Linked DNA regions of Homo sapiens. The protein of the gene in region 1 interacts with the protein of each later gene in a pairwise test. Each region holds a gene or a part of one and is shown on either strand. Other genes may lie near its edges.

Region 1 (3,500 bases):
GGGGTTTTCCGGGTCAGAGGAAAAAAAAAACCAGCAGCTTTCTGTGTGTCTGGCCGGGGTACTTCCCATGTCCGCTCTCAGCCCTGTGTCCTGGGGAGACTGTCCTGGGGCAAACCTGGGGAGCCCAGCCTCTCCCAGGCCTCAGGGCCTCACCTGCAGGCAGCCAGGTGCCCGAGCTTGTCCTGCACACTTGAGGCCCTGGCCTGGGCAACTTCTGACAGCTTGCCACAGCCTCCAGCCACAGGGCTGCCTACCTGGGCCAAGCTACAATCTCACAAACTCACACAACACAGGCACAAATTCTGACCACCCCCAGAGGGAAATTTTTTTTTTGAGGTGGAGTCTTGCTCTGTCACCCAGGCTGGAGTATAATGGTGTGATCTCGGCTCACTGCAATCTCCGCCTCCTGGGTTCAAGCAATTCTCCTGTCTCAGCCTCCCAAGTAGCTGGGACTAGAGGCGCGCGCCACCACACCTGGCTAATTGTTGTATTTTGCTAATTGTTGTATTTTTTGTAGAGACAGGGTTTCACCATATTGGTCAGGCTGGTCTCAAACTCCTGACCTCAGGTGATCCACTCACCTCAGCCTCCCAAAGTGCTGGGATTACAGGCGTGAGCCACCACACCCGGCCGGGAAAAATATTTTTAAGATTCCAAATGGCCTCTTACAAATCCACTCAACAGCCCCTCACTTCTACTCCCCTCCTGGGACAAAGTCAAGCCTGTGTCCTTCCTGGCTCATGGTTCCCCAAAAAACCGTGCACCTAGGCATGGTGGCTCACTCCTGTACTCCCAGAATTTTGGGAGGCCAAAGTGAGAGAACTGCTTGAGCCCAGGAGTTCAAGACCAGCCTGGGAAATAAAGTGAGACTCCTCTTCTACAAAAAATAAAAATAAAAATTAGCAGGGCATGGTGGCACGTGCCTGTAGTCCTAGCTACTGGGGAGGCTGAGATGGGAGGATCACATGAGCCCAGGGGTTCAAGGCTGCAGTGAGCCATTATTGAGCCACTGCACTCCAGCCTGCACATAGTGAGACACTGTCTTGAAGGAAAAATAGAAAAACTGGACCTCTGAACCATCAATCCTCACCTCCACCCCTGGCTCTGCAGATCAGCTTAGGTCAGTGAGGATGTCAGGCCACCCCCCCACACCCTGCCACTTCTTCTAGGGAAAGTCACAGTGGTCCTGTCATAGCCACTTCCAGTACCCCCACCCAGACTCACCACCAGTGGCCAGGGAACCATGTACAACTTCATGTGCAGCTGAAACAGGTAGAGGTTGAAGAGGACGATTGTCACCAGCCAGAGGAAGACAGCGACGAACATCACCCAGCCATAGGCCGGATACAGGTGGTACGGGGTGTCCGCAATCAGCGCCCACACCAGCAGCCCCAGCACCTAGGAGGGTCAGACAAGGCAGGATTGGCCAGAGATGCGGTTTCATTTCTTATCTAGCTAAGAAATACTGGCCAGGCACAGTGGCTCATGCCTGTAATGTCAGCACTTTGGGAGCCCAAGGTGTAATAATCGCTGGAGGCCAGGAGTTCAAGACCAGCCTGGGCAACAGAGCAAGTCCCCATCTCTACAGAAAAATTAAGGCCGGGCGCAGTGGCTCACGTCTGTAATCCCAGCACTTTGGGAGGCTGAGGTAGGCAGATCACCTGAGGTCAGGAGTTCGAGACCAGCCTGGCCAACATGGTGAAACCCTGTCTCCACTAAAAATACAAAAATTAGCCAGGCATGGTGGCGTGTGCCTGTAATCCCAGCTACTTGGGAGGCTGAGGCAGGAGAATTGCTTGAATCTGGGAGGCAGAGGTTGCAGTGAGCTGAGATCACGCCACTGCACTCCAGCCTGGGAGACAAAAGTGAAAATCCGTCTCAAAAAGCAAAAATAATAATAATAATAATAATAGTTAGCCAGGTATGGTGGTGCGCACCTGTGGTCCCAGCTACTCATGAGGCTGAAGCAGGAGGATCACATGGGCCCAGGAGTTAAAAGCTGCAGTGAGCTATGATCATGCCACTGCATGCCAACCTCAGAGACAGAGTGAAATTGTCTCAAAAAATAGAAAAAAATTTAAAAAGGAATGCTGACTTGGCTCGTGTGATACACCACTGTACCGGGGCCCTGCCCTGCACTCTCACTCCTCTTGCAGGTCTCAGCTGAGATGTCAGGTGCTCCAGGACACCCCCACGCCTCCAGCCGGCATCCCAGAGCCCTCATCAGTGCTCACAGGGCCCCCCAGGCACCCACCATCCAGGGCCATAATCGTTCCCTTCCCCAGACTGCGAGCTCCACGAGGGCACAGCCGTGGCTGTCTCACAGCTACGTCCCCACACCCAGCACAGGCCCTAGGCCCTGCCAGGGGCTCAGTAAAAGCTGCTGAAAGGAAGATCAAGTCACCACAGTCCCAGAGGCGGGAAGACAACAGCCCTGTGTCCTCCCTCCCAGCTGGGCCCAGCAGAGAACGTCACAAGGGCCTCTGGGTGACCTCCTGCCCAACACCCCACGTCTCCGGCTCTCCCAGATGCCCTTCTATACAGGTGTTGCCATCTCACAGGTGAAACTGGGCCTCCAGGAAGCCAAGGGGCCTACCTGTCAGGCTGTTCCCACACGGCAGGATGGGCCTGACCATCCCAGCAGAGCATGGGTAGTGGCTAACAGCATGAACTCTGGAGCCCAGCTGTCTGGCTTCGATCCCGGCTCTCCTTACCGGCTGTGTGGCCGTGGGCAAGTGTATAACCACCCTTGCTTATCATATAATGACCATTCCTATCTTGTAGAGCTACTGTGAGGACCCACAAGTTCATGCACATAAATGATTGCAGCAGAAGTGTTTTTTTATTATTCCACAAGCCCGAACTGGACTGCACAGGCCCCAGCCCTCACAGCCACAGAGAATTCTCTGCGGCAGGTTTGTCGACTCACTATGCAGACTGTCTCAGGGTGCAGGCCAGCAAAGGGCCAGCTGAGGCAGGGCCCAGGGAGCTCGTGGAGGCCCCCAGAGGCACCTCGGATGTGGCCATCCTGGGCCTCCCCAGCCCCTCCTACCCCCACCCACCCCTTGCTGGTGGAGATGCTCTGGAGAGCGCCTTCTCCACGAGGGCACTCTCTGGAATCCCTGGCCACGGAGAGGACACGAGGGTCTAGCTTTGGAGAAAGGCTCCATTGCCAATCAAGACACACAGAGGTGTCCTCTTTTTCCCCTGGTCAGCGCCCAGGTACATGGCACCAAGGCTGCGTAGTGACCTTGCCACCAGCCCAAGGACAAGTCAGTGGGATCAGAGAAGCGGCTCCGGAGCAGGACCTGCCTCTGGCTGCTAGGGTTTGGAGACAGAAAGTCCTGGCTGCTCCCAGCAGCTGAGGGGCTGCCGCCAGCCCCTAGAGCACCTGAGGGCCTGGGCCTAGAGCACAGACAGAGCTGGGGTGCCTGCCAGGCACCCCATCCAAAAGCAACCTCGTCGAGGACCAGAAGGGAAGCTCCTGTGTGGATCCCTAC
Region 2 (3,500 bases), on another chromosome or scaffold:
TTAACTCACCTCCAGATGTGATCACTGTTTTGTGCACTTATTTTTAGCTCTGTGTTCCTTTTGTTCTGTATCATGCCTTATGCTTTTAAGACCTGGAAGGCAAGGCTAATGTTTGTTTTGTTTTATTTCATTCTTAGCACAACTTTGCATATAATTAGAAACCAAATAAATTTTATGATGACAGTGGTTCTTTTTAAAGCCTGAAATTTATTGATTTGACTTTATTTCATTCGAATACCTTAAAATTTAACCAGAGTGCTGGATTGTTTTCATTTGTAGCTATATAAAATTATTTTCCTCATGGAATAATCTTGTCCAAATTAGGAAAATTAGATATTCTTAATACTTACATCTTAGGTTAAAGAGATGATTTGATATATGACATAAAATTCTTTATATAATATATTCTTGGCACATTTACATCTCATTCATCATCTTACTCATCATTATGTTTGATGACAACTGCCAGTTCTGCTATACATAACTAACTTGCTCTTCAGTTTTGTCACCTTCATTTTCAGTGAGGAGAAGCGTATCTAGTAGAATGATTGATGAAGACTGAATGGTTGAACTTCGGAGCCTCATTGGACTCTGGTACATGGCAGGGTTAATCCCATTTCGAATTCCATGTTTCTTGAAAAACTTAGAGTTCTCTGCCATTGGATTCCGGAAGTAGATCTTACTGGAGCGTTTTCTGAGAGTTTTTACTGACTTTGTGGCCCGGTAATTGCAGGTGATATATCGGCCAAATGCATCCCGAAATGTCTTATTGAAGAGGGTGTAGACCAAAGGATTCACTCCTGAGGAAACATAGCCTATCCACACAAATATCTCCAGGAGCATTTGGAGAGTAGTTTGGTTACAGGAATCACATAAAACTAAAGTTATATTTGTAATAAAGAAGGGACACCACATAAGCAAAAAGAGGAAAAACACAATCCCTAGGACCTTTGAGGCTCTCTGTTCGTTGGAAATGGTCTGCACTGACTTTTTCCCAATTGTGGATGTTCTTCGCATAAGTGTTTCATCACCTGAGTTGGGCAGAGCCTTGTCCTTTCGAGAACCATCCAGCATTGCCACCTTTTCCGGTGACGAGCAAGGTGTTTCATCCCTTTGGAAAACTGTAGACACAGTCAACCATGTTAGGCGTTGAGGTGGCTTGTTTTTGACTAAGTAAGCCTTCTTCTGTAAAGCATGGATAGTGAGAAAGTAGGTGACAATCATAATTGCAAGAGGTGTGAAGAAGGCAGCCAGTGAGCCAAAGAGCATGAAATCGCCAAAACGTTCCTTTGTCAGCACACAAGTGATATTGTTTGGGTTGTCCACATCAGTCTCTATCCCTTTAATAGGGACTGGAATGGCAATGCCTAAGGAAGAGGAAAACAAGATAAATTGAGTCATTTTATGACCTGTAACTCTTCGATTAGATCCTTTTGGATTGTATCCTTATAACTTTATGCTTGTTGGTGCATTATAATTCCTGGGACCCACAATGCAGGATTTGTCGAAGCATTCATCAGTGAAGATTTGACAAACAGAACCTAAGTGAGCAAATCTGTTTTTAAACGGAGATTGGTTAGTAATTTCAGATTTATAATGAAAGCTCCCCTAAAGCTATAGTATATCCATGATACAGTGGAGAATGTCTTCATTTATTCTACATTTCTCATAATCTATTTTTGTTTTTTAAGCTATCTCAGATTAAGGAAGAGAAATTCAGAAGAGAACCTGCTTTTTTCTTATTATCCAGTGTAGTTGATCTAGAGGCACTTCAGAGTACATTTATTCAATATCTTTACTCAGTTTTGTCTTTGAGGTTACAGTTTCATTTAACAGTTTTTCCTTTTGATATGTGTGAATGTCTTTTAATCCTTTCCATCTAACTTCTTAGGGAAAACTAAAGTTCATTAAAAAGTGCTACTTAAAATTTGAGTGTGTGTGAATCATGATGTTGAAAGATTATGAGTTCTTAATCTTTCTTCTTCTGTAGAAGCCTGGGCACAGTGGCGCTCATGCCTGTAATTCCAGCACTTTGGGAGGCCAAGTGGGGGTGGATTACTTGAGGTCAGGAGTTTGAGACAAGCCTGGCCAACATGGCGAAACCCCATCTCTACTAAAAATATGAAAATTAGCCAGGCATGGTGGCACGCGCCTGTACTCCCAGCTACTCAGGAGGCTAAGGTGGGAGAATCACTTGAACCCAGGAGGCCGAGGTTGCAGTGAGCCGAGATCACACCACTGCCCTCCACGCTCAGCGACAAAGTAAGACTCTGTCTCAAAAAAAAAGTTCTTTTATGACCTGGGAAAGAAATATACCTCATGTTAGTTTTCTGATCTTTAAATACCATGAAGTATTTAAATATGATGTTTCTTAGTGAAGTAGCTTATTAGAAAGACAAATAATACAGGGGTTAACCTGAATCTTTTTCCTTTGAAACAGCAGATATTTTTTAAATGTCTGAATTAATTGATCTTTAGAAACCTCTGGAATCCTTGTGTTGTTTTGTGAATCCAAGAGCACCCCTCATCTACACACCCTTTTTATGGTAGCTAAAGAGCCATTGACAAGAATATGTTCCTCAAACCCTTTCTAACAGAGGTCATTACTTTCTCTACTTTTCCTCATGTACACCACCAGAAAGAGGATTCTGTATACTTGTTCTACACCAGGGGTCATTATACTACAGTTTGAGGACCATTGGCCCACATTCTATTTTTGTAAAAGTTTTATTGGCATACTGCCACTCCCATTTGTTAGTAACATATTGTCTGTGGCTGCTTTTGTTCTACTGCAGCAGAATGGAGGAGCTGTGACAGAAACCATATACGCCCTGCAAGCCCAAAATATTTGCTGTCTTACCCTTTATAGAAAAAGTTTGCTGACCCCTGCTTTACCCTGTTACTTTCAGATCACCATTCCACTGTTTATTTCTCCCCCAAAACACTTGCCTTTTGAAGTTTATTTTATCTACTTAATACTTTCTTCTCCATCTTGCTTTTCTGTTAACCTCCATGACATTTGTTCATCTTCATCAATGGCTTCAGTACCTGCTATAGTCTTCTCTCCACTGTTCCAGTGCCAGCATTTTCTACTTCATCCCATTCGTGACCCTTCTAAGACCTTAATTTTATATTTCTTGAACTCTTTGACTCTAATTATTATTATTTGCACTAAAGCCATCTACAAGTCTACTTAGAACAATCCCTAAGATTATGAACTCTAATACTTCCCTTCCTTGTCCTGCTACCCCTCACTCCTAGAGAACTTCTGTTTCCTGTTATTTTTATCTCTAGTTCATTCATTCATCTCAGTTTTCACATTCTATTAACTCATTCTATTAATGAGACTTCATTCATCTCAGTTTTTACATTCTGTTAATATCAGGACTCACACTACTTTCCTATCCAGCTTGTTGGTCAATAACTGTAAAAGTTTTCACTGGTACTTTTTATGCCCTTACCCTGTTATATTATTATACTTTCTGTTGCCAGGTATTACC
Region 3 (3,500 bases), on another chromosome or scaffold:
AAGGCCACCTTTTCCACAGAGCCTTCTCTGCCCTGGTGGGTAAGAGGGCAAAGGATGAGTCCTTCAGAGGAAGCAGGAGCTGCAACAGGGGAGGTGGAGCAGTGGGGGCAACCTGGCTTCCCTTGGGTTAGACCCTGCAGACACAGGGGTCTTGCTATACTTGAATGCCAAGCACAGAAGTGGCACTGCTGCCTTCTACCCAGGGGTCCTGGAAGGTGACTCGTCAAAGTTTTATTAGTTTGGTGCATGGATAGTGATGTTACAGAGTCTAGGCCCCAGGGGCTCTCCCAAGCTGCAGCTTCCCCTCCTTCCTCAGGGCAGGGCCAGGCCAGGCCAGATGGTTTTCAGCAGCCTCTTAGCCGTGGGCTCCTCTAAGGCAGAGGCAGTGGAAGGGAAGGGAAACAGGAGAGAGGAAAGGCCAGAAGGAATAGAAAAGGAAAGTGGTTTTGCGTCAGAGTGTGGCAGAGGCAGTCCCTCAAAGAACCTCTGATGTCCCCTAGCCCAGGCCCAGATAGAGTTCCAGGGCCTGACCTCCCTGCCAGGCCCCAGGCTGGCCAGCATGTGCTGTGAGAAGGGATACATTGCAGGGCCGTCAGAAGGCAGCAGGGTGGGCTAGGCCAAGGAGTTCCTCTCCCCATAGACCCTCCTGGGCCCTTCAAGATGAGGGCTCCTCTTCTCAGAGCATGTGGAAACCACTTGGGGAGCTGTAACGGGGTGAGGTGGGTCCGGACTAGCCTGGAAAGTAGAGGTCCACATCGGGGTGCGGGAGGGAGCTAAGGTTTTTGGCTTGGGAATCTCTGGGGTCCAACCTGCAGTCTGGTATTTACATGGGTCTCCCAGGACTGAAGTTGCCTGGCTCCTCGGCAAGAGAGCTTGCTTGCCTCCTGTGGGCCTTGCAGGGTGTGAACTGTCCATCTCTCCCCACCGCCTGCTCCACGCCAAGCCCCACAAAGAGAAAACTCAGCCTCTGGGCCCTGACTCAGGCTCCAGCAACCCTAGAGCCCCAGAGGAAGGTCAAGGAAGGCGGCTGCATCTTTGGTGCCAAGGATAGGGGGACTGGAGGTGGGAGGGGGGACTCTATGAGCTGCCCCTGAGCTGGGGGGCCCAGCCCCAGGGCTGGTACCATGCCCAGCTCACTAGCACTGCCCTGGCAGAGTGAGGGTGTGCGGGCAGTGAGGAGCATGGAGCCAAGCGAACACTGCAGGGCCTGCCGGGGTGAAGAGGAGGCCGATCCACCCAGGCCTTCCTGCTCACGGTTCGCAAGGGTGAGGCTGGCCGGCCTGGGCAGGGAGGTGGGAAGCAGGCTGCTGTGCGGGCAGGCAGCAGAGTCAGCAGTGGAGGATCTTCAGGAAGGCCTTGCGGAACTCAATGTTGAAGGTGGTGTAGATGATGGGGTTCACGGCGCTGTTGACATAGCCCAGCCACGTGAAGGCGCTGTACAGGACAGGCGGGATGTTGCAGTCACAGTGTATGTTCAGGATGTGTGTGATGAAGAAGGGCAGCCAGCAGATGATGAACACGCCTGGGGGAGAGGGCATGGTCAGGCTGGTCCCCAGAGCCGGGGAGGCACGGCTGGGAACACCCACACCCAGTGCGCCCTGGCTCGTATGCCAAGACGGTGGGCTGTAGCCACAGAAGCACTGTAGGAGGAGTCCAGGTCTTGGATCCTAGACCTGCCTCTGACACCCATTTGCAGTGAAGTATCCCTTCAGCTCCTTCAGCCTCACTTCCCTCATTTGTCCCTTTCCCACCTCCTAGAAAAGGGTACATGGTTTAACAATAAATCCAAAAGGTTACCATTCTGACCCAGGTTAGCCAGTAGAAATGGAAATATCTACTCTACTTCCAGGTCATCTTTGAGGGCTATAGACCCATGCCACTTAGTTCTTATAGCATCCTCATAAGGTACATAAGAAAAACACTCACAACAGCTCTGCAATATACCCAAGGTCATTCACTCTTGAGCAGCGAGGCTGAGAGCTGAACTCCGGTCTATCCAGGTCCCCAGATGATCTCGCTCTAGCCTTCCCCCAATTTCCCCAGTCTTGGTGGGTACACCCTTGCTAGTCCCTGCCTTGAACCATGCCCTCTCACCCAGGGCAGCCACCTACCTGCTCTGCTCACCTAACTCAGGTGCACTTTTTCCAGGACCTCCTGCACAGGTGTGATATTTATCCTGGAAGCAATGTGTACATGGAATGCCCTACAGGCACAGGAGGCATCCCTGGAGACTGAATGGTGTCTGGGAAGAGTAGGGCCACAGAGCTGAGCCCCTATGGACTGCAGCAGAGGGCCTGGCTCCAATCCTAGCCTACCATATCCCAGTCCCATGATCGTGAGTAGTCCCATGGGATCAAGTGCTCTCATTCATAAAAGAAGGGAGGTAACAGCTGCCCCACTCACGCCCCAGGATCATCCGGCAGTCAAAGGGGATTCAGGTGCTTCCTGGAAGACAGAGTCACAGGGGACCCTCCTTTTCCCAGCCACCCATATCAGTCCACCTTTTGGGTTTTGACCTTTACTATGTGGTTTTCTAGACTTCTATTGAAAAATCCTGCTTTATGGACAGGGATGCTTTTCATTTAGATTGGGGGCCACTCCCCAACATCTCATTTATTTTTCACAGCTCTGGTCCCATGGAGTCTTGTTTGAGTGCAAGTGAACTGAATTTCCCAATTCCTCAAAAAGAGCAATAGTAATAAAAACCATAATAGTGACACTTACATATGGATAGTGCTTTGTAGTTTAGAAAATGCTTTCACCAACTGATTGCCATGACAGCCCTGAGAAGTAACCTACTCTACAGATGAGGAGCCTAGAGAGAGAAAGTGACTTTCCTGGGCACATAGGCCCATGAGGTTCTGGTGCCAGCATAATAGACTAGTCAAATTTCCAGACTCTGGAGTCAGACTGCCTGAGTTCAAACCATGGGTCCTCTTGGTCAGGTTTTATAACCACTCTAAAACTCTGTTTGCCCATCTGTAAAGTGAGCACAATTACAGAATCTACCTAATAGGGCTGTCTGTATGTCAATGGGCTTGGCCTGTGCCTGAGGAAATGCTAGCCCCATGATCCTGCAGCCATGGTTAGGAAGGACATGGCAGGGAATGGGACCTTTCACAGACCGGGCTGTGGCCAGCAGCCAGGGCCGACTCACCGAGAACAATGGCGAGCATCTGAGTGGCTTTCTTCTCCTTCTGCTGGGAGAGCTTCCTACGGCTCATGGTCTTGAGGGAGGTCCGGGTTTTGCCATTGGGCATGGTCTGGATCTCAAAGATCTTGGCAATCTTGGGGTGGTCTTTGGCATGCCCATTCTTCTCTGGTTTGGCGGGGCTGTCGGGAGTGCTGTGGAGACCATGGTGGGACGGGTCGGGGAGAGTCAGCTGGTGGTGGCTGGGTGGGATGGGGCTGTACCGGGTCCTCTCGGGTGGGCTGGTGCTGGAGAGCATCTCCATCTCCAGCTCCTGGGCTCGCCGGGCAGCCTCCTGCACCAGAGGCAG

What was found. Proteins that work in one complex are often made in the same cells at the same time.
Region 2: the proteins of PLLP (region 1) and HTR2B interact in a two-hybrid assay, tested with the Homo sapiens proteins (one large-scale study listed by BioGRID and IntAct).
Region 3: the proteins of PLLP (region 1) and DRD2 interact in a two-hybrid assay, tested with the Homo sapiens proteins (one large-scale study listed by BioGRID and IntAct).

Annotation. Positions count from the first base shown.
Region 1 is NC_000016.10:57,260,673-57,264,172, forward strand, and holds part of PLLP (plasmolipin), read right to left. Parts: intron 1,399-3,500; coding exon 1,225-1,398; intron 1-1,224. UniProt on the Homo sapiens protein: Main component of the myelin sheath that plays an important role in myelin membrane biogenesis and myelination. Plays an essential function in apical endocytosis. Regulates epithelial development through the regulation of apical endocytosis.
Region 2 is NC_000002.12:231,108,043-231,111,542, forward strand, and holds the end of HTR2B (5-hydroxytryptamine receptor 2B), read right to left. Parts: intron 1,368-3,500; coding exon 475-1,367; 3' UTR 188-474; downstream 1-187. UniProt on the Homo sapiens protein: G-protein coupled receptor for 5-hydroxytryptamine (serotonin). Also functions as a receptor for various ergot alkaloid derivatives and psychoactive substances.
Region 3 is NC_000011.10:113,409,399-113,412,898, forward strand, and holds the end of DRD2 (D(2) dopamine receptor), read right to left. Parts: intron 3,486-3,500; coding exon 3,158-3,485; intron 1,523-3,157; coding exon 1,329-1,522; 3' UTR 207-1,328; downstream 1-206. UniProt on the Homo sapiens protein: Dopamine receptor whose activity is mediated by G proteins which inhibit adenylyl cyclase. Positively regulates postnatal regression of retinal hyaloid vessels via suppression of VEGFR2/KDR activity, downstream of OPN5.